Homo sapiens: one gene and its partners. The protein of the gene in region 1 interacts with the protein of each later gene in a pairwise test. Each region holds a gene or a part of one and is shown in the gene's direction. Other genes may lie near its edges.

Evidence for each region.
Region 2: the proteins of BRD8 (region 1) and FSD2 interact in binary tests that used the Homo sapiens proteins (3 or more experiments, as listed by UniProt).
Region 3: the proteins of BRD8 (region 1) and MIS18A interact in binary tests that used the Homo sapiens proteins (3 or more experiments, as listed by UniProt).
Region 4: the proteins of BRD8 (region 1) and AGTR1 interact in a two-hybrid assay, tested with the Homo sapiens proteins (one large-scale study listed by BioGRID and IntAct).

The regions. Positions count from the first base shown.
Region 1 is NC_000005.10:138,160,531-138,166,504, reverse strand, and holds part of BRD8 (bromodomain-containing protein 8), read left to right. Parts: intron 1-396; coding exon 397-677; intron 678-1,338; coding exon 1,339-1,791; intron 1,792-2,091; coding exon 2,092-2,185; intron 2,186-2,371; coding exon 2,372-2,418; intron 2,419-3,160; coding exon 3,161-3,375; intron 3,376-4,358; coding exon 4,359-4,451; intron 4,452-4,640; coding exon 4,641-4,709; intron 4,710-5,436; coding exon 5,437-5,614; intron 5,615-5,974. UniProt on the Homo sapiens protein: May act as a coactivator during transcriptional activation by hormone-activated nuclear receptors (NR). Isoform 2 stimulates transcriptional activation by AR/DHTR, ESR1/NR3A1, RXRA/NR2B1 and THRB/ERBA2.
Region 2 is NC_000015.10:82,763,468-82,769,441, reverse strand, and holds part of FSD2 (fibronectin type III and SPRY domain-containing protein 2), read left to right. Parts: intron 1-411; coding exon 412-562; intron 563-3,410; coding exon 3,411-3,544; intron 3,545-4,143; coding exon 4,144-4,276; intron 4,277-5,974.
Region 3 is NC_000021.9:32,271,234-32,277,207, reverse strand, and holds part of MIS18A (protein Mis18-alpha), read left to right. Parts: intron 1-2,311; coding exon 2,312-2,378; intron 2,379-5,974. UniProt on the Homo sapiens protein: Required for recruitment of CENPA to centromeres and normal chromosome segregation during mitosis.
Region 4 is NC_000003.12:148,695,500-148,701,917, forward strand, and holds the start of AGTR1 (type-1 angiotensin II receptor), read left to right. Parts: upstream 1-2,403; 5' UTR 2,404-2,628; exon of another isoform or gene 2,629-2,650; intron 2,651-6,418. UniProt on the Homo sapiens protein: Receptor for angiotensin II, a vasoconstricting peptide, which acts as a key regulator of blood pressure and sodium retention by the kidney.

The DNA.
Region 1 (5,974 bases):
CAGCCACTAGATCTAAAATTTCATTTTGAGCTTTAGTTAGAGAAAAATGACCAAGAGCATCAGCTCCGATTCAGATGCTTCTTCTCTGTTCTACATAGACATGTGCCATCTTTATCCTTAGAAATAAATATCCTTAGAAATAGATGTGAGAAGAGGTGGGTGGGCATTTATGTATTGCAGGAAGAGGCTAAGTATACAGATATGAGCAGGCTTGAAAATATGTTCTCACCTTTCTAGATAAAACTGGGGAGAAGAAAACATAGGCACATGTTGATGACTCTTTCTGACCTTAAGTGTTTGGATATTTGACATCTGTCTGTAGCGCTTATGTGATCTCAAGGTGGTCGCTTTGTACCCAATAAGCTTCTGAGATGCTTTTCTCTTTCTGTTACTCAGTGAGTCAACCCGACAACTGTGTTCCCATGGAGGCTGTGGGGGATCCACATACTGTGACTGTTTCCATGGACAGCAGTGAAATATCCATGATCATCAATTCTATCAAAGAAGAGTGTTTTCGATCAGGGGTAGCAGAGGCTCCTGTTGGATCAAAGGCTCCCAGCATAGATGGGAAGGAAGAATTAGATCTGGCTGAGAAGATGGATATTGCTGTGTCTTACACAGGTGAAGAGCTGGATTTTGAGACTGTTGGAGACATCATTGCCATCATTGAGGACAAGGTAACTATTCAGCGAAGCCCCAGAGAATCTCATGGGTCCTACATAGGCTTCTCTTTTCAGCCTCACTTTGGTGCTGCTGCTGCTTTTTTTTTTTTTTTTTTGGAGACAGAGTCTTGCTCTTTCATCCAGGCTGAAGTGCAGTGGCACGATCTTGGCTTACTGTTACCTCTGCCTCCCAGCCTCAAGTAATTCTTGTGCCTCAGCCTCCTGAGTAGCTGGGACTACAGGCACATGCCACCACGCCTCACTAATTTTTTGTATTTTTAGTAGAGATGAGTTTTACCATGTTGGCCAGGCTGGTCTCAAACTCCTGGCCTCAAGTGATCCACCCACCTCGGCCTCCCAAAGTGCTGAGATTACAGGCATGAGCCACCATACTCGGCTGCTTTGCTTCTTACAGTAAGAATTACTTAAACAACTCTCCTACTTCTGCCCATCTCCATCTTTGTAGCCCTTTGGTGCTAACATACTAGTCATCTCCTCAGGTCTACCCATGTTACTGGTTTGCACAGGACAGGTGCCTCTTCATTGTTTGCCTCCACTACATGGAAAAAATGGAGCGAAAAGCTGCAGATTCAAGCCATCACATTTGGTGCTAACAAAAATTGAAGGACTTGGGCTTCTTTCTGTGACCTCAATAGTCTTGTGTTTTGTGGGACAGGTAGATGATCATCCTGAAGTGCTGGATGTGGCAGCAGTGGAAGCAGCACTGTCATTTTGTGAAGAAAATGATGATCCTCAGTCCCTGCCTGGCCCCTGGGAGCATCCTATCCAGCAGGAGCGGGACAAGCCAGTACCTCTCCCTGCACCAGAAATGACGGTCAAGCAAGAGAGACTGGACTTTGAGGAAACGGAAAACAAGGGAATACATGAACTGGTGGACATCAGGGAGCCCAGTGCAGAGATCAAGGTGGAACCTGCAGAACCAGAGCCAGTCATTTCAGGAGCCGAAATAGTAGCTGGAGTTGTTCCAGCCACAAGTATGGAGCCACCAGAACTCAGGAGTCAGGACTTAGATGAGGAACTGGGAAGTACTGCAGCTGGAGAGATTGTTGAAGCAGATGTTGCCATTGGGAAAGGCGATGAGACTCCACTTACAAATGTGAAGACAGAGGTACTTAAGAAAGATCGGGGCTGGGGAGATGGAGGTTTATACCTTAGATAAGAAGTGACAGCTTAGGCTTTTTGGTTTTCCAGTTGCATTCCTGAGTTCTGACATGTTTGATGTGTCCAAAGCCCATAGGCTGTGATTAGTGTTATATATACTTATTCCTGTTAAGGTGACCATTGGAGTCACATTACATGAGTAGGACTTAGAATTTCTTCTATGGTCTCATTATCACTGAAGAATAAAGTTGTGTGAGCTATAGCGATTTATCAGTACTTAGGGTGTTTTTTCTTTTCTGGTTTTCAGGCATCCCCTGAAAGCATGTTGTCTCCATCACATGGCTCAAATCCCATTGAAGATCCTTTAGAGGCAGAGACTCAGCACAAGTTTGAAATGTCAGGTAAATAAAGTCCTCTTTCACTGACTTGAAATCATTTGCTTTGGCTTCTGAGGGGTTGTGGGTTGTGGGCAAGTAGAGGAGGTAGAACAGGTCAGCATGTAAAGGAGAGCTGCAGGGGATTATGGTCCATAGGAAGGGGAAGGCTAAGGTGGAAAAATCTTCAGGTAGTCTTTCTCTCCTCTGCAGACTCATTGAAAGAAGAATCAGGGACTATTTTTGGAAGCCAGATAAAGGTATTTCAGACTTTTCTTTATTCCTCTTGCCATGTGATTAGATTTCCCTATAGCACTACTTTTTAATGAATTTCAGTAAAGTCACATCTTTATTCTCTGATAAGAGACTGGTATGGAGTTGCATGGGGAAAAGCTGCAGTAGACAGGCATAATGGGAGTACTATAGCAACAGGTGCCTCCCATATGAAACAGCATGTGAATATCACACAGTCCTTAAGAAGGCTTGATACACTTAGAGTGATTTGTAGTGAATAAGGATACCTGAGCCAAGGAGAACATACAGGAATCAAGTTTATTAATTAGACTATCCAAAGAGAATCATCCAGAGTTTTCTTTTTAGAATTATTAAAGCAGCAGTAACAGAGGCTTAAAGAATGTGATGTGAGCTTGCTCCATCAAATGAGACACAAAATAAAAATTATTTTTGATAACTTTGTACCCAGGGTCAGAGTTACTCTCGAGCAAGGGGAAAGAAGGAACGCCTCTTAGCTTAGTCTTAAGTAAGTAGCTTTTTTTTTTCTTTCTTTTTAAAAGATCCTGGGTATTATTCTTTGTCCAGGTTCTAAATTACTTAACGCAGTGTCTGTAAGTAGATGGTAGTATAAGTGATAGACAGCTGAGTCAGGAAACAGCGTGAGGTCATTTCTAGAACTAATTCTAACCCAAAAGACAGATCATGTTTAATGATGCTTTGCTGGATAGCTTTGCTTGCATTTGTTAACTGGAGCATACTGTATCTAAGGATGCCCCAGGTGAGGATGAGGAGGAAGATGGTGTCAGTGAAGCGGCCAGCCTAGAGGAGCCTAAGGAAGAGGATCAAGGAGAAGGCTACTTGTCAGAAATGGATAATGAACCTCCTGTGAGCGAGAGTGATGATGGCTTCAGCATACACAATGCTACACTGCAGTCACACACACTGGCAGACTCCATCCCCAGCAGCCCTGCTTCTTCACAGTTGTGAGTATCTGAGATTCTTTCTTTGAGGCCAAGGCAGTGAAGGTGAGGAGAGGATCTTTTCCTTCCTTCCTTCCTTCCTGTCTTTTCTCTTTTCTTTTCTTTTCCCTTTCCTTTCCTTTCCTTTCCTTCTCTTTTTTCTTGTTCTCACTCACCCATGCTGGAGGGCAGTGGTGCGATCTCAGCTCACTGCAACCTCCACTTCTCAGGCCCAAGCAATCCTTCCACCTCAGCCTCCTTAGTAGCTGGGACTACCAGCCTGTGCCACCACACCCTGCTAATTAAAAAAAATTTTTTTAGTAGAAACCAAGTTTTGCTACATTGCCCAGGCTGGTCTCAAACTCCTGAGCTCAAGCGTTCCACCTGCCTCGGCCTCCCAAAGTGCTGAGATTACAGGCGTGAGACACCATGCCTGGCCTTTTTCTTTATTTTTAAATTTTTATTTTAAAAAAATTTTTTTAAGGGACAGGATCTATGTGGTCCAGTCTGGTCTTGAACTCCTGACCTCAAGCAGTCTTCTTGCCTTGACCTCCCAAAGCAGTAGAATTAGAGGCATGAGCCACCATGCCTGGCCTGATCTTTTCTTTAGTGTTTCCCTTTTTTGACCTGGAATAAACAGCTGACAAGAAATAATTAGGGCTGGGCATAGTGGCTCACACCTGTAATCCCAGCACTTTGGGAGGCTAAGGCAGGAGGATCGCTGGAACCCAGGAGTTCGAGACCAGCCTGGGCAACACAGTGAGACCCTATCTCTACAAAAAAATTAAAAAATTAGCTGGGCATGGTGGTATGCACCTATAGTCCCAGCTACTTGGGAGGCTGAGGTGAGAGGATTGAGTCTGGGAGGTTGAGGGTGCAATGAACATGATCATGCCACTGCACTCCAGCCTGGGGGACAGAGTGAGACCCTGTCTCAAAAAGAAAAGAGAATTATAATTTTTATTTTTTAACTTGTGCCTAGTGGAATTGCTGTATCTCTGTTTCAGCTCTGTCTGTAGTGAGGATCAGGAAGCTATTCAGGCACAGAAAATTTGGAAGAAAGCCATCATGCTTGTATGGAGAGCTGCAGCTAATCATAGGTGAGTGGGCTTTACCAGTCAGTAGGTTCATTTTCTCCTACTCTTCATTGTTGGTGACTGGAAAAAAGTCTGAGTAGGCTTCTGTGGAACTGCTGGTATTAGTTCTTACTACCTTTAGTTACTTAGAGTAAGTTCCCTCCCTGCACTTCTGGAGAATGTCAGTAATTGCACCTTATTCCTTTTGGACAGGTATGCCAATGTCTTCCTGCAGCCTGTTACAGATGACATAGCACCTGGCTACCACAGCATTGTGCAGAGGTGAGCCATGGTCCACCCAGCATGGTAACTTGCCTGAATTATAAATTGTCCAGTCTTAGTGAAGTTTTGCTTTCGATAGAAAGTTTAAAGCAAGTAAGTTTATGGTTTTGCTATAAGGGGCACTGAGTGCTAAACTGATAATTCCAGTGGCTAGATCACCACTGATAGTCTAAAAGAATAAATCTCCACCAGGAGCGGTGGCTCACGCCTGTAATCTTTGGGGGTGCTGAGGTGGGTGAATCACTTGAGCCCAGGAATTCAAGACTAGCCTGGGCAACATGGCGAAACCCCCTCTCTACAGAAAATACAAGACTTAGCCAGGTGTGGTGTCGCGCATTTGTAGTCCCAACTACCTGGGAGGCTGAGGTGGGAAGGATTGCTTGAGCCTGGAAGTTCGAGGCTGCAGTGAACCAAGGATTGCTTGAGCCTGGAAGTTCGAGGCTGCAGTGAACCATGATTGTGCCACTGCACTACAGCCTGAGTGACAGATCCAGGCCCTGTCTCCAAAAAAAACCTAAATAAACTCCCTTTATTACCTTTCTCAATGCTTATTATATAGATTGTTTCTTGGGTTAAGTGCATGTTTTGGGATAAGGGGTTAGCATTTAAGTCCTGGCAGCTGGGAGTTAAGGTATATATGAGAAAGTCTATATGATAATGTATTCATAGATCTAGGTGCGTCCTCTTTCCATCCCCACTGCTACTTACCCCTGTTCTTTTTTTTTAGGCCTATGGATTTGTCAACTATTAAGAAAAACATAGAAAATGGACTGATCCGAAGCACAGCTGAATTTCAGCGTGACATTATGCTGATGTTTCAGAATGCTGTAATGTACAATAGCTCAGACCATGATGTCTATCACATGGCAGTGGAGATGCAGCGAGATGTCTTGGAACAGATCCAGGTACTTTGAGGATCCTTTGTGTTTCAGCAAGGATGAAATTAAAATACTTCAAGGGGAGGATTCATATTGATGCCAAGAAGGGTTGCTGTGGCTTTTACGTGGATAGCTGTCAGGGACACAATTGAAAACATAATATTTTGTTCTTACTTTTATTTTCTTTGGTGTGGTGAAAGAGTTGTGATACAATATTCTACCTTTCTTGGGCAATTATTTGCAGTTTCATAAAGTTTTTAAATAAAATTTTTTAAAAATGGTGAATGTATATTTTTTAATTACATTAAGTACCTGGTACATAGTAGGTGATCAGCAAATAAGAGTTTCTCCTTTCCTTTTCCCTGCTTTTATCCTATGATTGTGTTA
Region 2 (5,974 bases), on another chromosome or scaffold:
CACCACATCTGATTTTTTTTTTTTTTGTATTTTTAGAAGAGATGGCATTTCGCCATGTTGGCCAGGTTGGTCTCGAACTCCTGACCTCAAGTGATCCACCCGCCTCGGCCTCCCAAAGTGCTGGGATCACAGGCGTGAGCCACTGCACTCAGCCGACAGTGACAGTGACATTTTCTGATGGTTGGTCTCAAAATATAAAAAACTGCTACTCTCGGTCACACTGACATTTAAACCTTGCAAGCATCTTCTATTCCAGGAACATCTGGAAGGGATTCCCTGGTTTGCTTTTTATTGCACTGAATCTCTTTTGTGGGAGGAAGAAGGTGGCTGTGATGTTTGTCCATGGCTCTGAACAAAACAGCTGGAAATGAACACAACAGTTGTTCATCTCTCCCTTTCTCCCACATTTAGCACCTTCTCCCCCCATTATTAAAACCAAAGAGATAAGGAGCTGTGAAGAGGCTGTGCTGATTTGCTGGGAGTCTGGGAACCTGAATCCTGTGGACTCGTACACTGTGGAGCTGACCCAGGCTGAAAGTCCAGAAGCCTCGGGTGTAACTGAGTGAGTCATGAGGGCATTTGCTGGGCACGAGAGCCCTGACACCTGATACAGTGACATGGCTTAGGAAGTATACGGAGTCTGAAGAGAAGGTTGGCATTTTTGATACACAGGAATCTCAATTTTTGGTTGCTTAGTGTTCATGAGAAGTAGCTGGAATGCTATTACTGAAGGTGAATGACAAGTGAATGAATAAGTTGGTTGAACCTCAGGTTTTGTTGTTGTTGTGGTTGTTGTTTTAGCTCAAGTAAGGTTTCCCATTCATTCATTCATTCATTCATTCATTCAACATGCATTGAGTGCCTGGGTGGTGTCAGGTCCTGTGCAAGGCACTGGGAACTAGATGGACAAATTTCCTGCCCTAATGGGGCTGACAGTCTGGTGGGAAAATAGACAAAAGGCAAGAAAACAAACCAATGTGTAAAATATACAGTGCTAGGAAGGAAAAAGAAATGTAATAAAACAGAGAATGGTGGTGGAGGTGAGGATCCACTTTGGATAAAGAAGATGTTTAAACTGAGACCTGAACATATGGGAAAGACTGAGCCCCAAGAACAGCGAATGCAGGGGTGCTTCGGGGGGAGGGGGCTGCATGAACACAGGCCCTGGGGCAGGAGTGAGCTGCTGGAGGAACTAAAAGACCCACCTAGCTAGAATTCAGAGAGGTGAGGGTGAAAGCCATAGGCGAAAACAAAAGAGATTGCAGCTGAATGTACAAAGAATGTTTCATCTATCACAGAAGACTGTCTGGAAGCTCATGTTCACCCCTCATTCTCAGAGAGCTAGAGGGGTTCACAAATTGATAAGGGTTGGACTCAGTGACCACAAGGGCTCGCAGAACCTATGAGTTTACAGCAGCCTATGATGGAGGAAGCATAGGTTTACCTCTGGTTTACAGAAGTTTGTGAAAGGGGATGAACCACCCAGGCAGGCCAGCACCAGCCACCAGGACCAGGGGCTCCCCTGCTGTGGAACACAGGGGTGCACTGACCTGGAGCTGGAGAAATGAAGAGGTGTTGGTGTCAATTGTTAGGGAAGCAGATTCTTCTATGCTAAATGCCAGGCTTGAAACGTGGCCATATGCCACCCATCCATCTGTTCCAGGTGGAATCTGTGTGTCCATGGCCACACAGAGGCTGACTTTGGTAATCCACTCTGGAGATACTCAGGAGTGGGGCAGTGTGTCCAGTGGTTCTGGCCATCCTAATGGTTCAGGTTTCCTTTGCAATTTATGCTGATACTTTAGGAGCACTTGACACCTGGGACCAACTCACAATGATGAGGTCATCAGAGGGCTGGTCAGTAACCTGAGAGATGACCTGAGAGCTGGTGCATATTCTTCCAGTACAAATCCAATCATGGCGACCCATTGCTGAAGAAAAGGCAAAACTCCTTCACAGGCTCTGGCCCCTTCCTGCCTCTCCAGCTCCTCCCACACCAGCTCCCCTCCCTCTCAAGATCCCACCACATTGGTCATGTTTCAGTTCCTCCTACTTTTCATGCTCCTTCCTGCCACAGGGCCTTGGCACATGCTTCTCCTATGTAGGAGACTCCTCTGTCCCTTTTTCATCCAGTTACCTCCTCAGCATTCTTCAGAGCTCTGCTCAAAAGCCATCCTGCCCCCACCATTATACACTACAGCACACTATCAACTTGTCTTGGTTACCATCTTACATTCCTTCCAGTGATTGCCTGAAGAATGCTGCTCTTCCCATCTAGACTGTAAGCTCTATGAGGGCAGGAACTACATTTGTTTTTTCTGAGGGCCTCCCTATACAGTGCCTGGAACCTAAGGAGTTTAGTTAACATTTATTGAATGCATAAGTAAAAGTGCCCCTCTGGCCCAGAGCTGCAGCCTGAAGATAACCTGGACAACTTGGCCTCATCTGGGTGAGGGTGTTGTATTGGTAAATGGGCATCATCCTAAAGACTTCTCTTGCCCACTGGACTGACATGGGGTTGGCAACCGCAGCAATATAGACAGTGGCAATTATGAGCTTATATTTCTGTATAGTACAATTTAAATACATTGGATTATTTCCAATAGGCAGCTGTTAGGGGGTTAACAGCAGTTAACACTTTCAGCTCTAGTCAGAATTGTTTGCTCATAAACATAAATCAAGGACCTTTTTTTTTTTTTTTTTGAGACAGTCTCACTCTGTCGCCCAGGAGTGCAGTGGCGTGATGATCTCGGTTCACTGCAACCTCCAACTCCCAGGTTCAAGCAATTCTCCTGCCTCAGCCTCCTGAGTAGCTGGAATTACAGGCACCTGCCACCACACTCGGTTAATTTTTGCATTTTTAGTAGAGACGGGGTTTCACCATGTTGGCTAGGCTGATCTCGAACTCCTGACCTCAAGTGACCCACCCGCCTCAGCCTCCCAAAGTGCTGGAATTACAGGCATGAGCCATTGCACCTGGCTGAATTGACGGCCTTCTATGGGCCCAGTACTGTACTAAGAATAGCGGTACTCAGCCCCTGACCTCAGAGACATTATGATCCTAACAGACGGACAGAGACACACTGGATTCTACTGCATGCACACTCCATGATGCAGTGTTAACCATATGCCAAGCACAGTGCTGGGTGCCTGGGAAACCAGAATGAGGGACTTGGAGAGGAGACAGCCACAAACACAAGAAGTAGCAATGAAGTGAGAAAAGCAGACCAGAGACTGTGGGAGGGAATGCAGAGGGGGAGCCAGCACTCCTGGCTATGCTGCTGTTAAATGTGGGTCAGAGGACAGGAGCGCAAGAGTGAGTTAAACCTTCCAGCTTTGAAAGGGATGCCTGGTGCTTGGGCCTGGGTGTCCTAGCCCCATTCTGACTGCAGCTCTGCTTCCTTGTACAGGTCTGTTGTGGGCATCCCGACCTGCGAGTCCGTGGTGCAGCTGCAGCCGGGGCGGAGCTACATTATCTATGTGCGAGCCCTCAATATGGGGGGCCCCAGCGTGAGGAGCGAGCCAGCTACAGTCCACACCATAGGTCTGTGCCCCAGCCCACAAAGTCTCTGGGACCCAAAGTGGCCACTCTGTGGCAGACCCAGTGCTGCTATGACTTCACTGGGAAATTGATGAATATGCACAGATGTGGACACGTGGCAAGTCAGGCCAGAAGGAGTTCAGGGGTGTCCCATACTGCCCTAATTGCAAGTCAAATGGATCATTAAGAAGTCCTTCAATTCCTATTTCCCTTGGCAAATAGGTTAGAAATTCTTATCCATACACAGGCATTACAGCTAGAGGTAAAGAGCACAGCCTCTGGAATCAGAGGGGCTTGGGGTTCAAGTTTAAGTTCTATCATTTGCCAGCTGATTTCTTAACCACCTTGTGCCTCTGTTTCCTCATCTACAAAATGGAAATAGTGACACCTGTTTCTAAGGGTCGTCGTGAGGATTGAAGGGGATACTAGGCACACAAGACTGCCCGATGAGTGTCAATTGCCATCCTTGTTAACTGGACGCCTATTACTAGGCCAGGTCCAGGCTTAGGTGTATCCCACACGAAGCTAAACCGGTGACCACCGCCCACATGGAGAAAGCAAGTGATTGGCTGCGGGTCTTCTGTGTGTTCCTCCTCCCACAGGAAGCTACTTTCGCCTAAACAAGGACACTTGCCATCCCTGGCTGACCATTTCTGAAGACGGACTTACGGCTGTACGAAGTGAAAGGAGAACCCCCGCCAGGGAGCTGTCACCCAGCGACACTCACTTCACCAGGTACTTTGTCAACCGCTCACAAGGGCGTTCTGTGAACTTCCCGAAGGTGCACTGTTATTCAGGTCAAATCCGAATATGGCACGGAGGCAGCCTCGAGGGAAAAGGAATCCTACAAATGAGTGAGGAGGGAGGAGCCTAATGGGGAGGGGACCCAGAGGAGTGTGGGCAAGAGGGGTCAGGCAGGTGCAGGCAGAAGAGCCCCCTGGGACGGTGAGGTCAGGAGAGGGCGCGGTCCCCTGGGAGGGCATGGTCCCTGGGTCCTAGGCTGCCAGAGCTGGAGCAGCCAGAGGTCATGAGGGTGGGACAGGAATTACTAGTGGAGGGTGTCCAAGTTCTTGGCGTTCTGAACAAAGAATTGGACAAAATGCACAAACAAAGCAAGGAAAGAGGCCAGGCACGGTGGCTCATGCCTGTAATCACAGCACTTTGGGAAGCCGAGGCAGGCAGATCACCTGAGGTCAGGAGTTTGAGACCAGCTTGGTCAACATGCTGAAACCCCATCTCTACTAAAAATATAAAAATTAGCCGGGCCTGTTGCGGGTGCCTGTAATCCCAGCTACTCGGGAGGCTGAGGCAGAAGAATTGCTTGAACCCGCGGGGCGGAGATGGCGCCACTACACTCTAGCCTGGGCAACAGAGTGAGACTCCTTCTCAAAAAAAAAAAAAAAAAAAAGCAAGTAAAGAATGAAGCAACAAGAGCAGAGATTTATTGAAAACGAAAGCACACTCCACAGGGTGGGAGTGGGCCAAGCAAGCGGCTTAAGGGCCGGGTTACAGAATTTTCTGGGGTTTAAATATCCTCTAGAGGTTCCCACTGGTTACTTGGTGTACACCCTATGTATATGAAGTGGCTAAAGTGAAGTTACAAAGTCATTTACTGGGTGTACACCCTATGCAAATGAAGAGGATGTTTCCTGCCATGCTGAAATACAAAGCTATTTACTTGGACTTAGAAGGTTGGGGTTTTTCCGTTTAATTTAGTTCTAGGAAGTCCTTAGGTTCCCTGCCCCCAGACCCTGTTCTCCTGCTTCACAGGGGTCATGCTGTGGGCTAGTGGGAGAACAGAAACAAGGACCCAGGTCTCCCACCAGTTAGCCCAGTGCTCTCTCTCCTGCACTGTGGTACCTTACAGCAAAACTCCTGATGGAAAACTGGCCATGGAGTGAGTCTGTTCCAAAGTTCAAGGCAGATAATTGCTTTGTACATGTACATATGAAAGAAGCCGGAAAGATCATGTTTGGAGAAATATAAGGAATTTGGTATGTCTGCGGTATAGGATCCATGACGGGAAGAGGTGGAAGATGAGGCAGGAAAGTCGGAGAAAGTCCAGTATACACACAAAAAGTTAGGATTTTATCCTCTATGTGGTGAGAATTATTGGAGGATTTAAAGCAGGGGAACAAGATCAGATTACATTTCAGAAAGATTCCAGTGCATGGTAGAACGTGAGCTGGGGAGGGAGAGGGAAAGGCAAAGGCAGATGGGAAACAGAGACCAGAGAGGAGACTATGGAGGGCTTGACTACGCAGTAGCATGGGTGAGAGGAGCCAGGGGAGTCAACTGCTGTTGAGCACATAAAACCAACAAGGCTAGGTGCTCACCTGTTTAAAGGGCAACAGAGAGGAAGATGAGTCAGGGACTATCATATTGCCATATTTATAGAGTGCTTACCAAGTGCTAAATGTATTTCATCTCATG
Region 3 (5,974 bases), on another chromosome or scaffold:
TTAAAATTTAAAGAACTATACATTTTTTGATTTATCAGATTTAGATAATAGGATTTAACACCTCCCCACACCCCCCAGTAAAGACAAATAAATGAACTCGGATTCATTTCCATTCCTTCCTTACCCAATTTGAATTAGTTTAATTATTTTCATTTTGTCAAGGTTTATACATTTACATTCTGTACATTTACATTCTGTTCTGTAGCTATAACAGCCTAACTATGATTTTTTAAAATAGGATTATTTATTTAATAGGTTTTTTTTTAATAGGGTTATAGTGGGTTAACAGCCCTCTGTTGCCCAGGTTGGAGTACAGTGGCGCAATCATAGCTCACTGTATGTAACCTTGAACGCCTGCTCAAACTATCCTCCCGGCTCAGCTTCCCAAGTAGCTTGGGACTACAGATACACACTAACACCTGGCTAATCTTTAAATTTTTTGTAGAGACAGAGTCTTGCTATGTTGCTCAGGCTGATCTCAAACTCCTGGCCCCAAGCAATCCCCTGCTTCGGCCTCCTAAAGTGCTGGGAGTACAGATGTGAGTTACAGCACCCAATCCTATAAAGTTTATATAAATTGTTTTCCCAACTCCAGTACTCATTAACATAAAAAAGCTTCTTAATAGCTTTTTCATTCCTGAATTGTTTGATTAATCATTAGTGCTCCCCACGTCCACATCTCCAAGAAAATTTCAAGTTTATGTGCTAGAAAATATTTTCCTTTTTTTTTTTTTTTTTTTTTTTTTTGAGACAGAGTCTCACTGTGTTGCCCAGGCTGGAGTGCAGTGGTGCAGTCTCAGCTCACTGCAAGCTCCACCTCCCGGGTTCACGCTATTCTCCTGCCTCAGCCTCCTGAGTAGCTGGGACTGCAGGCTCCCGCCACCACACCCCGCTAATTTTTTTGTATCTTTAGTAGAGACGGGGTTTCACCATGTTAGCCAGGATGGTCTCGATCTCCTGACCTCATGATCCGCCTGCCTCGGCCTCCCAAAGTGCTGGGATTATTTTCCTGTATTTATAAGTGAATGCTAGCTTGGCTGCAGGTACAGTTCTTGGTCACGCTCTTTGCTTTTGACAGGTGCTGAGCAGCTGGTGCAAAAGCCTTGAGACTGGTTAAAGAGAATAAAGATAAGATTTAGGGAGGAAGGAAGAGATCAGAAACTGCAAGGCGTTGTAGTCTGTTCTAAAGAGTAGTAATCTGTTCTAGTGAGTACGTTATTATGCTAGCTTAGGCAGGGGAGTAATGTGACCCCGCATTTTCTTTGGAGAAAGCATTGAAGGAGGAACAAGTATGGAAGTGGGGAGGTTAGTGAAGAGCCAGGGCAGTAGTCCAGGCAAGAGGTGGTGCTGGTGGTTTGGGGGCTGGAGTGAAGTTTGTGAGGTAGAATTGATGGGATGGATCAGTGGAGTAGATACAGGGGAGCAGGATGAGGAGACAAAGAATCAAGGATGACACCCTGGTTTCTGATTTCAGCAAGCAGGTAGATGGAGTTGGAGTTTACCGAGTTAAGGTAGACTGTAGGAGGCCGTGAAATCAAGAGTCTGTTTTGGCCATTTTAGGTCAGATGTCCCTTCTTCATTTCTCTTCACCCTCTACCCTGTCCTTTAGTGTTTCCTAGAGCTGGATTCTTTGGGAATGTTTGCTGCTGCCTCTGAAGTCCAGCAGTGACCTCTGTCCAAGTCATTGTTCAAGTAAAAGATGTGTGGCTGGGATCCTGAGGACCCTCTCAGTTACTTTTAGAGAAATGGGCCCTGTGTTTGAAATCTGGAGATATATGTGTTGGCTGTTTGCATCTTCCTAGGTTTGGAACCCAATTTCACTATCTGGCAGATAATTCTTTGCAGTGTGTGATTTGAGGTTCTACTTGTTCCAAGTTTACTGTGGAATGAATTTTCCCCTCTAATTTTAGCCATTCTATTAATGTTAGTGGTTTTCAGGGAAAGGGAGGAAATAACCTTTTAAAATTTTTCTTAAATTTTTATTTAAAAATTTTTTTTTAGAGATGGAGTCTCGTTATGTTGTCCAGGCTGACCTCGAACTCCTGGCCCCAAGCCATTCTCTCACCTTGGCCTCCCAAAGGGTTGGGATGACAGGTGTGAGTCCCTGCGCCTGGTTGGAAATAACTCTTATTCTGCTATCTTTTCCCAGAAGACCCCAGTACATTTAGTTTTAAACCGCTCTTTTGTGTGTTTGACTTTGGGCTTATTTTTTGTCCTCCGAGTTCTAAAAAGTTGGATTAGAAACTCTCTGTCTGCAGGTATGTTATAACGAACTACATTAATAAATTATTGTTACTTTCTCTGTTTCTAGGTGTTTCCTGTAATGTTTCTGTGGATAAGGAACAGAAGCTATCCAAACGTGAAAAGGAAAATGGTTGGTGAGTAAAACTGTATTTATATGAATATGTTAGAGAATTTTCTTTAATAAAAATCTTTAAAAGGTCATTACTAGTAGTAAGATTACTTGGGATAAAACTTTTCATGATAGTAAAAAAATCAGTCGTTCGCATATATCAGTTCTTTTTTTTGCTTTTTCTATATCCTGTTTTAGAAAGGAATATGTTAGTTCTTGAGTGGTTGTGGTCACCTTTAGATATTGAAAAGTTAGAGTTTCTAGATTTCTAAAAGCATATGCTGACATTCCCTTTTTGGATCTTTGGGCTTGGTGCTGAAGAAAATCAAAAATAAAAATAGAAAAAGAAGGTCGGGCACGGTGGCTCACGCCTGTAATCCCAGCACTTTCGGAGGCCAAGGTGGGCAGATCACCGGGGGGTCAGGAATTCGAGACCAGCCTGGCCAACATGGCAAAACCCCGTCTCCACTAAAAATACACAAATTAGCCGGGCATGGTGGTGCGGGCCTGTAATCCCACCTACTCAAGAGGCTGAGACAGGAGAATCACTAGAACTACGGAGGTGGAGGTTGCAGTGAGCCAAGATCGCCAGTGCACTGCAGCCTGGGCAACAGAGAAAGACTCCGTCTCAAAAAAAAAAAAAAAAAAAAAAAAAAAGAAGAAAAGGAAATACCTATATTATAAAATCTCAATGTTAAAGGGTGCCTTAGGCTAATGCTGCCCAACTTTCTCATGTTATGGCACACACATAAAATGCTGCTGTCACACACACAGCCTATTGGGGTAAACAGACAAGGCTGTTTGTGGCAAGAGCAAACAACACAGGAGCTCCAGCAATCTGAAGCCCTGTGTGGCCACTTTAAGGGTAGAGGGGACAAATATCTTGCCATACCTGCCACCCATGTGCCATAGTGACGCCTGAGCAAACTGAGTGGGAAGCGCTGCCCTATATAATTGTTGCTGCAAATGTAAACTGTATCTTACACTTGCGTATGAAATAACTTTAGGTGGTACACAGTTAAACAAAAATTAATTATGTGTATATTTTAATGTGTATTAAAAATACTGGCTTTTCATTTTTAGTGATGCTAGAGTATCCTATCAAATAAAGTATATTTCAATTTAAAAAAAATTACTCTGTGCACTTATGACCAAATACCTCCTGATGACCCCTCCTCCCAATACCATCACATTAGGAGCTACCATTTCAACTTATACATGTGGTAGGGGACAGAAACATTCAATACTTAGTCGCTCCTAAAACCCTTTCGATTTCTTGAGTGATGGGGTGATAAGGGTATCTTTTGTTACCATGTTTGGTCTTAGTCCCCAGTTCTGACAGAAGAGCTTCTAAGATGCTTGGAATCTCTGGAGTGATAATAATGTCGTTTTTAATCCTAATGAGGTGACTGTGGCTGGGGGGCTTCTATGTAGCTTCAGGATTGGGGGCCAGAAGGACCAAGGCATGATTAGAGGGTTGGAAGTTTTGGCCCTACCCCAACCTCTTCTCCTACCTCCATCGAGGGCAGAGGGGCTAGAGATTATCAGCAATGGTGTAATTAATCATGCCTGTGTTATAAAACCTCCAAAAAACCCATGGGTTTTAGAGAACTTCCAGATTGGTGAATATGAGATGCCGGGAGGGTGGTGTACCTAGAAAGGTCTTGGAAGCTCTGTGTCCCCCTTCTGTAACCTTTGCCCTATGTATCTCTTCCATAAAAGTGAAAAAAAAAAAAAAAGAAAAAAAGTTTCTCCATTTAAGATAAATTAGTAATAGTACAGATGGTTTGTGGATGTGACAGAAATTGTGGTGCCGGCATGCAGGCCATAAAAATTTGGAAAACCCACCTCAGATCATTTCTCATTTGGTAGTTGAAGAAAGTTAGGCCCAGGGAGGCTAGAACTTTGCTAAGGTCACAGGACTAATTAGCAGTAAGAGCTAGGATGATGCTTGTTACCCTTCCTTACTGCCTTCGAAGTGCTCTTTCTTCTCCACTTTCTAGCTCTAGCTCTAGCCATTTTGATATCACCATCATTTTTGTCCTATTTGTGTACCAGGTACCAACTGTGCTATTACATACTAAATTTTTAAAATTAAATCAACTCAAAATTTTTATTTAAATTTGTCTTAAAAGGATTGTTTTTACTATCATAAATACATACTTGCCATAACTAGAAAGTAACTCTGAAGATAATTACAGTGAAAACAAATGTTATTAGTTCTAGCTGAGATGTTGTTGCCTGGCTGGTTCTCTGCCTGAGGTCTGTTCTGTTACTATTAAAAGATTTGCGACTATGAGACAAGTGTCAAAGACAGTCTAGCACCAAACCGAGACTTTCTTCTTTTTTCTAATCAGGATTGATAGAGAATTCACTCTCTTTGATCCAGAGTTATTAATACTGTTTGTATCACCTAAACCCATCGATTAGACTGCCTTCAGTTGTCTTGGACTTCACTAGGGTTGTGTGCTGCACACTCCCGTGTTGCTTTGGGATGCTTGTGAATTTTTTGATACCTGCCTGAGCCTTTCTGCTGATGGTCAGCAAGAGCACTGTGGGCTTTAGAAATATGTTGTGAAGGTGCCAGTGCTGTTTTCTCTGTTAAGTCTGACTTTGTCCTTTGTTGAGGATCTTAACAATCGGATTATTCCTTGTCTAACATCACCTTACGATTATTGGCACTGCCTTCTCAATGTTACTGTTCAATGAAAGGGGTGAATGCTGGCCAAATTCTTGCCAACTGTGAAAGCGGAAAGTTGCTGCCTTAATACTAGCTACCATCTCTTCATTGCTCCACAAGATGATTCTAGAAGTGTGAATGGGTTTGTTCCTATTTTTGGTGGTGTTTAGGTTGATTTTGATAACTCGGGATAAAACAGTCTTATTCATGGCTCAGTGGATTTGGGGAGTTCAAGCCTCTGGTTTCTCTGAGTGTCCTTTCTTGGCTGATGACATTAGATATTAGTTTGCAGTCTTGGTAATGGTGTGAGGCGGTCTTATAATGGTAATGAGGTTTGATATATAGCATGGAGGTTTACCTGTTCACTGTGAGTAATTTAAGTGGGATTTACCGACATGCTTTTTATTTCTCATATAAACATTTAAACAAGCTGGCTGGGTATGGTGACTCCTGCCAGTAATCTCACATTTGGGAGGCCAAGGTGGAGGATTGCTTGAGGCTAGGAGTTCGAGACCAGCCTGGGCAACATAGCGAGACTATTTCTACTATAAAACTAAAATATAGAAGCTTATAAAAGCCCGTAGACACTTAATATGTAATCAGTGGCATACTATCCAGCTAATCACATCATCAGTGAGAATTCATGACTTAATCAGATGGTGATCCATTTTGTTCTTTGTTCCATATGTTGCTGTAATAATTAACAGTGTCTCAGTATCTGTAAGTAAACAATGATGTAGTCTATAATCTGTGAGTCTTGGGTAGCTCCCTTTTGCTTGATAGCAGGAATGGATATTTAGTGATTACAAGTGTTTCACATACTGAGTAGGAGTTAGAATACTTTTGTAATAAAAATCGTTTGTGGTGTATGTTTTACTACTGTGATCACTACTAGATTTAAATCTCTAGTTATCATTTTGCTATGTGTTGGAATGGTAATT
Region 4 (6,418 bases), on another chromosome or scaffold:
TTTGTTTTCAGACTACAAGTTTTAGATCCTTTTGTTAAATTTATTTCTTAGGGTTTTTTTTGTTTTGTTTTGTTTTGTTGGTTGGTTGGTTTGTTTTGAGATGGAGTCTCACTCTGTCACCCAGGCTGGAGTGCAGTGGCACAATCTCAGCTCACAGCAACCTCTACCTCCTGGGTTCAAGCGATTCTTCTGCCTCAGCCTCCTCCTCCTGAGTAGCTGGAACTACAGGCATGCACCACCACGCCTGGCTTTTTTTTTTTTTTTTTCTTTTGCATTTTTAGTAGAGACAGGGTTTCACGATGTTGGCCAGCCTGGTCTCGAATCCCTGACCTTGTGATTCACCCACCTCGGCCTCCCAAAGTGCTGAGATTACAGGAGTGAGCCACTACACCAGGTCATTTCTTAGTATTTTTACTCTTTTGATCTATAGTAAGTAAAATTGTTTTTATCTTTGAATTTTTAAATTTTTAACACAGTTCAAATCAGTGTGTCTGATTTCATCTCCTTCTCTAACAAACCAGGGTGCCAGAACTGCTTCAGTTTCTCTGCCTTCTCTTTGTCTATGATGACTAATGTATGAAGGTATCTGCTGCATCAAACTTTAAACTTCACATTATCCTTATTTCTCTTGACCTTGACAGATCTGGCATCTTTTCACCTGGCTGTAAGCAGAAAGTCCTTGATCTCCTTAACTTTTTGAGGCATGGCAGCATGTGAGGCAGGGAGAGGACACAGACCCACACAGCAAGTGGTGAGAAGCCAACAGTGGAATTGTTTTCTTAATTCCATTTGTTGATTGTTTATTGCTAGTGTATAGAAATACAACTGATTTTTGTATATTGATCTTGTATTCTAAAAACTTGCTCAACTTGTTTCTTAGTTCTAATAGTTAATTAATTGATTCCTTAGGGCTTTTTAATACAAGATCATGTCATCTACAAATAGAAATTGTTTTACTTTCTTTCTAATCTGGATGCCATTTATCTTTTTTTCTTGTCCAATTGCCCTCACTAGAACCTTTAGTACAAAGTTAAATAGAAATGGGAAGACTAGACATTTTGTCTTGTTCCTGATCTTAGACATAAAAACGTTGTCTTCCGTTATTATGTGTGATATTAGTTAAGTTTTTCATAAATAAACTTCACAGTTTGAGGAAGTTCCTATTCCTAGTTTGTTGAGTGTTAGCATGAAAAAGTGTTGAATTTTGTCCAATAGTTTTTAAAAATTTTTTTAGACAATCATGTAGGCTTTGTCCATTTTTTACTTCTTTAAATTTATTTTTATTGATACACAATAGATGTACACTTTTTAGGTACATGCAATAATTTAATGCCCCTCACTATAAATTCGGAGCTGCCTCCTCGCCGATGATTCCAGCGCCTGACAGCCAGGACCCCAGGCAGCAGCGAGTGACAGGACTTTTTAGGTACATGCAATAATTTAATGCATTCATATAAAGATCAAATCAGTGCAATTGGCATATCCATCACCTTAAATATTTGTCTTTTCTTCATGCTAGAAACATTCAAGTTATTTTCTCCTAGCTACTCTGAAATATACAATAGATTACTGTAAACTACAGTCACCCTACTCACCTATCTAACATTAATTGATTTTTGGTAAACTAATCTAATCTTGCTTTCTGGCATCAACCTCACTTGACCATGGTGTATAGTCCCTTTCATATGTTATTGGATTCAATTTGCCTACATTTTGTTGAGAATTTTTATCTATACTCTTAAGAAATATTGATCTGTAGTCTCGTGATGTCTTTATCTGGTTTTGTTATCAGGGTGATACTGGCCTCATAGCATGAGTTGGGAGATCATCCTTACTCTTCTATTTTTTGGAAGAGTTTGTGAAGAATTGATATTATTTCTTCTTTAAATATTTATTGGGTTTTTAAAATACATTTTTAAAATGCAACTTGGGTAGCATGTCCAATAGGAACAAATGAGTGTCCACCCTTGAATTTCATAACCCTGGAATTAATCCATGTAATCTATGATCCACAACTGTATTACCAAAGTTCGAGTTACTCATAGGAAAGAGAAAGAAGTTCTCTAATTCGTCCTTAAAAGTTTTCCAAGTTCAGAAAAAAAAAATGTTGAAGAACACGAATCTCCGCAGGAAATGATACTCCTGTACCCCCAGCTCGCTCTCCCTCACGACCCCTCGCTAGGCGGGGTTCGGGACCAGGTGAACGCTGATCTGATAGTTGACACGGGACGACTGTGGCATCATCCTTGCTGCCGTCAATATCCCGAGAGGGAGGAGGTTGGGCCGGGAGGGTCTCCCGGGGCGGGGCGGAGGAGGAGGGAATGCAAAACAGAGCCTCGTCCCCGGAACCCAAGAAGCAGCAACGCCCCTCACTATAAATTCGGAGCTGCCTCCTCGCCAATGATTCCAGCGCCTGACAGCCAGGACCCCAGGCAGCAGCGAGTGACAGGACGTCTGGACCGGCGCGCCGCTAGCAGCTCTGCCGGGCCGCGGCGGTGATCGATGGGGAGCGGCTGGAGCGGACCCAGCGAGTGAGGGCGCACAGCCGGGACGCCGAGGCGGCGGGCGGGAGACCCGCACCAGCGCAGCCGGCCCTCGGCGGGACGTGACGCAGCGCCCGGGGCGCGGGTGAGTCCGCGCGGACCGCCAGGCATGCTTGGGGGACTTCAAGGGCGGGGTGCTAAGTTTCATGTCACGGTGTCCTAACTGCTGGCTCTATACTGGGAAGCTCTCGGGGACCAAGGAAAGAGCGACCGTAGTTCTGGTCAGCGCCTGCCCCTGGAGCTGGCCACACTTTCCCAAATCAGGTGAGGGGCTTCTGGAATGGGAGGGAACAAGGTAGGTTTGTTTGCCACGTGCCTCGAAATTCTCAATCCATTTTAACCAAACTCTTCCGAGTGCAAGGAAGAAATCTACAGAAATAAGATGCAATTCAATAAACTTTCTTCCTGAGGCTTTTAGTTAACTCTTGTATTTTAGCCATCATCTGAGCGGGAAGCCGGTATGACTCTGCAAGGCGTTCGTTTAAAAGTTGTGCTACTTTTGAGGTGAAGTTAAGAGTGTCTCCATCCACGCCCTCTGCTTCCCAGTCAATGTCCCTGCACTGCTCACGTCCCTTTAGCTCTCTCCCTGCAAACCATAGCGGTGGGTCCTAGACACGGGACATCGCTCCAACCTTGGCCAAACTCTCCCACCCTCAGGGTTCCCAGATGTCCTTTGAATAATCAAACTGAGGAAGGAGAAGCAAGATGTCTCCACACCCCAATCCCTACAGCCTTAGCCAATGCATGTGTGTAACTGAGACAGAATTTTAGCAAAAGGTCTCCTGCTTCCAGGACTAAACAGAGCCTCTGGCAGGCCACTGCCCGACACCCAACTCCATCCTCCAATTTTCTTAAATGTCCAGGTAAACATCTCCATAGTGCCAGCCTGCTATAGTCTCCCGAAGACCTCAGCAATTCTTCCCCAAAGCGTCTCCTTCTGCACCGTTTTTTTCTTTGGGCAACCATTTGTGACCTGGCTATTGAGCCCACCTGGGCCTCTTCTCTTTGTTTGCTGATAGCCTCGTTAAGTATTAAAAACCTACTCCCCCCCTTCAGGAGCCCTCTTTTAATGAAAGTTTGGGTACTGGGATCAGATTTGGGACTTGGCTACATTTATTTCCTGTGTCATTCTGAGAAGAGAAAGTAATAGAGGCAAGAAATTTGGCACCCTATTGATCTATTTTATTACTTTGTTGAGCAACTTGTGCTTCCCGCTGAAGATGCTGCATCCCAACATGATTCTCTTATTATTAGTTACCACCTGAGGGTTTTGGATCTCCAGGTGTTTATTTCACATAGCATATGCTTTAACCCCCTTATAAGTCTTCTCTAAGGAAGAAACTGCCATACTTCCCTTGTCTTCTCCGGTGTTTCCCTAGCTATAAAGGCCCCACCTGCATAACCTGTCCTCAGGCTGTGATGTATTCCCGGGTGCCCTGGTACCTTCTCCTTCCTCTCCACCACCCTTCCTGACAGTGCAGGGGCAGGAAAGCATGGGGAGAAGGGAAATGGAGACTCCCACTTAACTTGCTGTGTGATAGTAAGAGCATTATTTCACAACTCTGAACCTCAAGTCTCTGCCCATAAGGTTCCCTCCAGTGATATAATTCCTTAATTTCTTTTGTTTTGGTTATTGCTTTAAAATAAAAGTCTAAGCTTAAGGCTAGGTTATAGAAACTGCCCATCATAATTGCTAGGTCTCAACATTTGCTTAAGTTTTGTGATTCTTAGTTTCAAGTCTGTTACCCACTCTCTCTCCCCGCCACCTTTTTTCCCCCTGACTTCATTGTTCTTTGTTCCCATCCTGAGGCCTTGATTTCTGGTTCTGCTCTTCTTTGACCTTAAACTGAATCAACTCTTCCATCATCCAACTCAGAATAAAATTGGTTTTCTTCCACCGGTTCCACTGATGCCAATGGAAGACTTGTCTTCCTTGCGATTTGCAAAATGTCTTTCAGTCACAGGTGCTGCGGCAATGCTGCTGTCCCACAGCATTCTAAGCTTCAGTCTTTCTCTCTCTTATCGTGGGTCAGTATTCAGAAAAGGGCAGATTTGTGGGTTGTTCAGGTTTCTCACTTTTCTTTTTCTTCTTTCTAGTTTGGGATCAGAGTTGTGTGAGTATTTGTGTATATAATTTTGTTTTGGTTTTTTGTTCCTGCTGCTACTTACGACTGCTGTTATTATTTCAATTATGACTAATTAATACTAATGACTAATTTTCCCCTATGCTAGAGGGAAAATAAGGAAGAAAAGTTTACTCTGCTACTTACCCAAAGCCCAGGTAAAATGCTTAGCTGAGAAGGAATTTAAAACTCATAGTTTAAATGCATGATGCATGTCTGCTGTCATTTTATCTGTGCTGCCACAGTGTCCTTTCAAGCAGATAACTGAGAGTTGCTGTATTTTGCTTTCGAATTTGTTACAGGGACAAAAATAGTGACCCCTCACATTTAGGTGTTTTGGCTGCTTAATGCGAGCTCCTGCCCTCTAGCCGCATGCTTATTAGTTTACCTAGCCCTTTTTCTGGTCAGTCATGACTGGAGAATGCCAAAGAGTCTCCCAAGTAGGCTACCAAATTAAGAATTGTGTTTAGAAGTTTGAAGTCAGTCCAAGTGTTGTAAAGATTAAAACGTTGTTTTGAAGATATGCTGTGTCAATAAACAAATATGGAGCCAGAGCAACACAATGTGACCAAGTGTCCAAGCCCAGCTTAGGAACACTTTTCTCCCATGTTATCTAGCAAACTGACAAATCAGCTTTCCAACACGTGATGATTGGAAAATGCTATTAGTTTCCTTCAAAATTCTCCTAATGTTTCTTTTTCAAAATTGCCTAAGATCATTGGATTATGTGGTTTGTGTTTCTTTTCACTGTAGCTGCTTGTTAAAGCAGTATACTCAATCTCTGATAAGCAACAGTAAATTTGATCGATTTGTATCCTAAATTTAGCTATCACTTTACATTTTGTTTTATTCATAATATGAACTTTAGCTTCTAAAAATCAACTTTTTAATAGCTTAATATATAAAGCCATCTTAAATCAAGGAATATCTATAGGGACTTAAGGTAATATTCAACTAAATTGGCAAGTGACTACCATTATCCTATTAAAGCTCTAAAATGCAATATTTCAATCACAGAAAAAAAATCTTATAATTTAAAGAACTATAAATTGCCAGATGTTTCCCTAGTTATTACGTTAGTGACAAATTAGACAACTGGAAATAGAAAACAGAGTATATGTTTGGAACAGTCATAAAAGGACTAGTGACTATTGCTGCTAGCTGTGGTTGTATTAACATTAAAATATTTGCTATGGGATTTTTCTTCTTATCAAAGCAGATGCTCAGATGAGGAAAAACTTTCTTGCATATGAAAATCAAAATTGTCTTCCAAAATATTTAAGTAACAAAAAATTCATTATGTAGTATAAATGCTGTATGATTACATTATTCTTATAGTTAATTTAGAAGGGTTTGAATTTGTTTTTGTTTTGTTTGTGTTTGTTTCTTCGATAGGTGCATTCTCTAACTGTCTTAAGTAGAAACAAATGTCTAGAATCTCTCAGTGATTATCAGTCTCCTTCCTATTACCAAGAATGTTTTTATTGTGTTGTTAATCTCACATGTAATTTTTTTAACATTTAAAAGTTTGGAAAATGGGTAAAAAATGAGTGTGCCTTGTTTCCTATTATTACAATGTGCCTTCCTATTTCAAGTCCCAATTCTAGATTTCCTTAAAACTTAAAATCATAGAATTAATAATCTTTCAGTTTAAGTCAACTTTTGTGTGATTTCTTGTCCACTTATACACACATAGATGCCTTCATCTTCACCAAATAATGTAGAAATTTTATTTAGTTCAATGGATTTAAG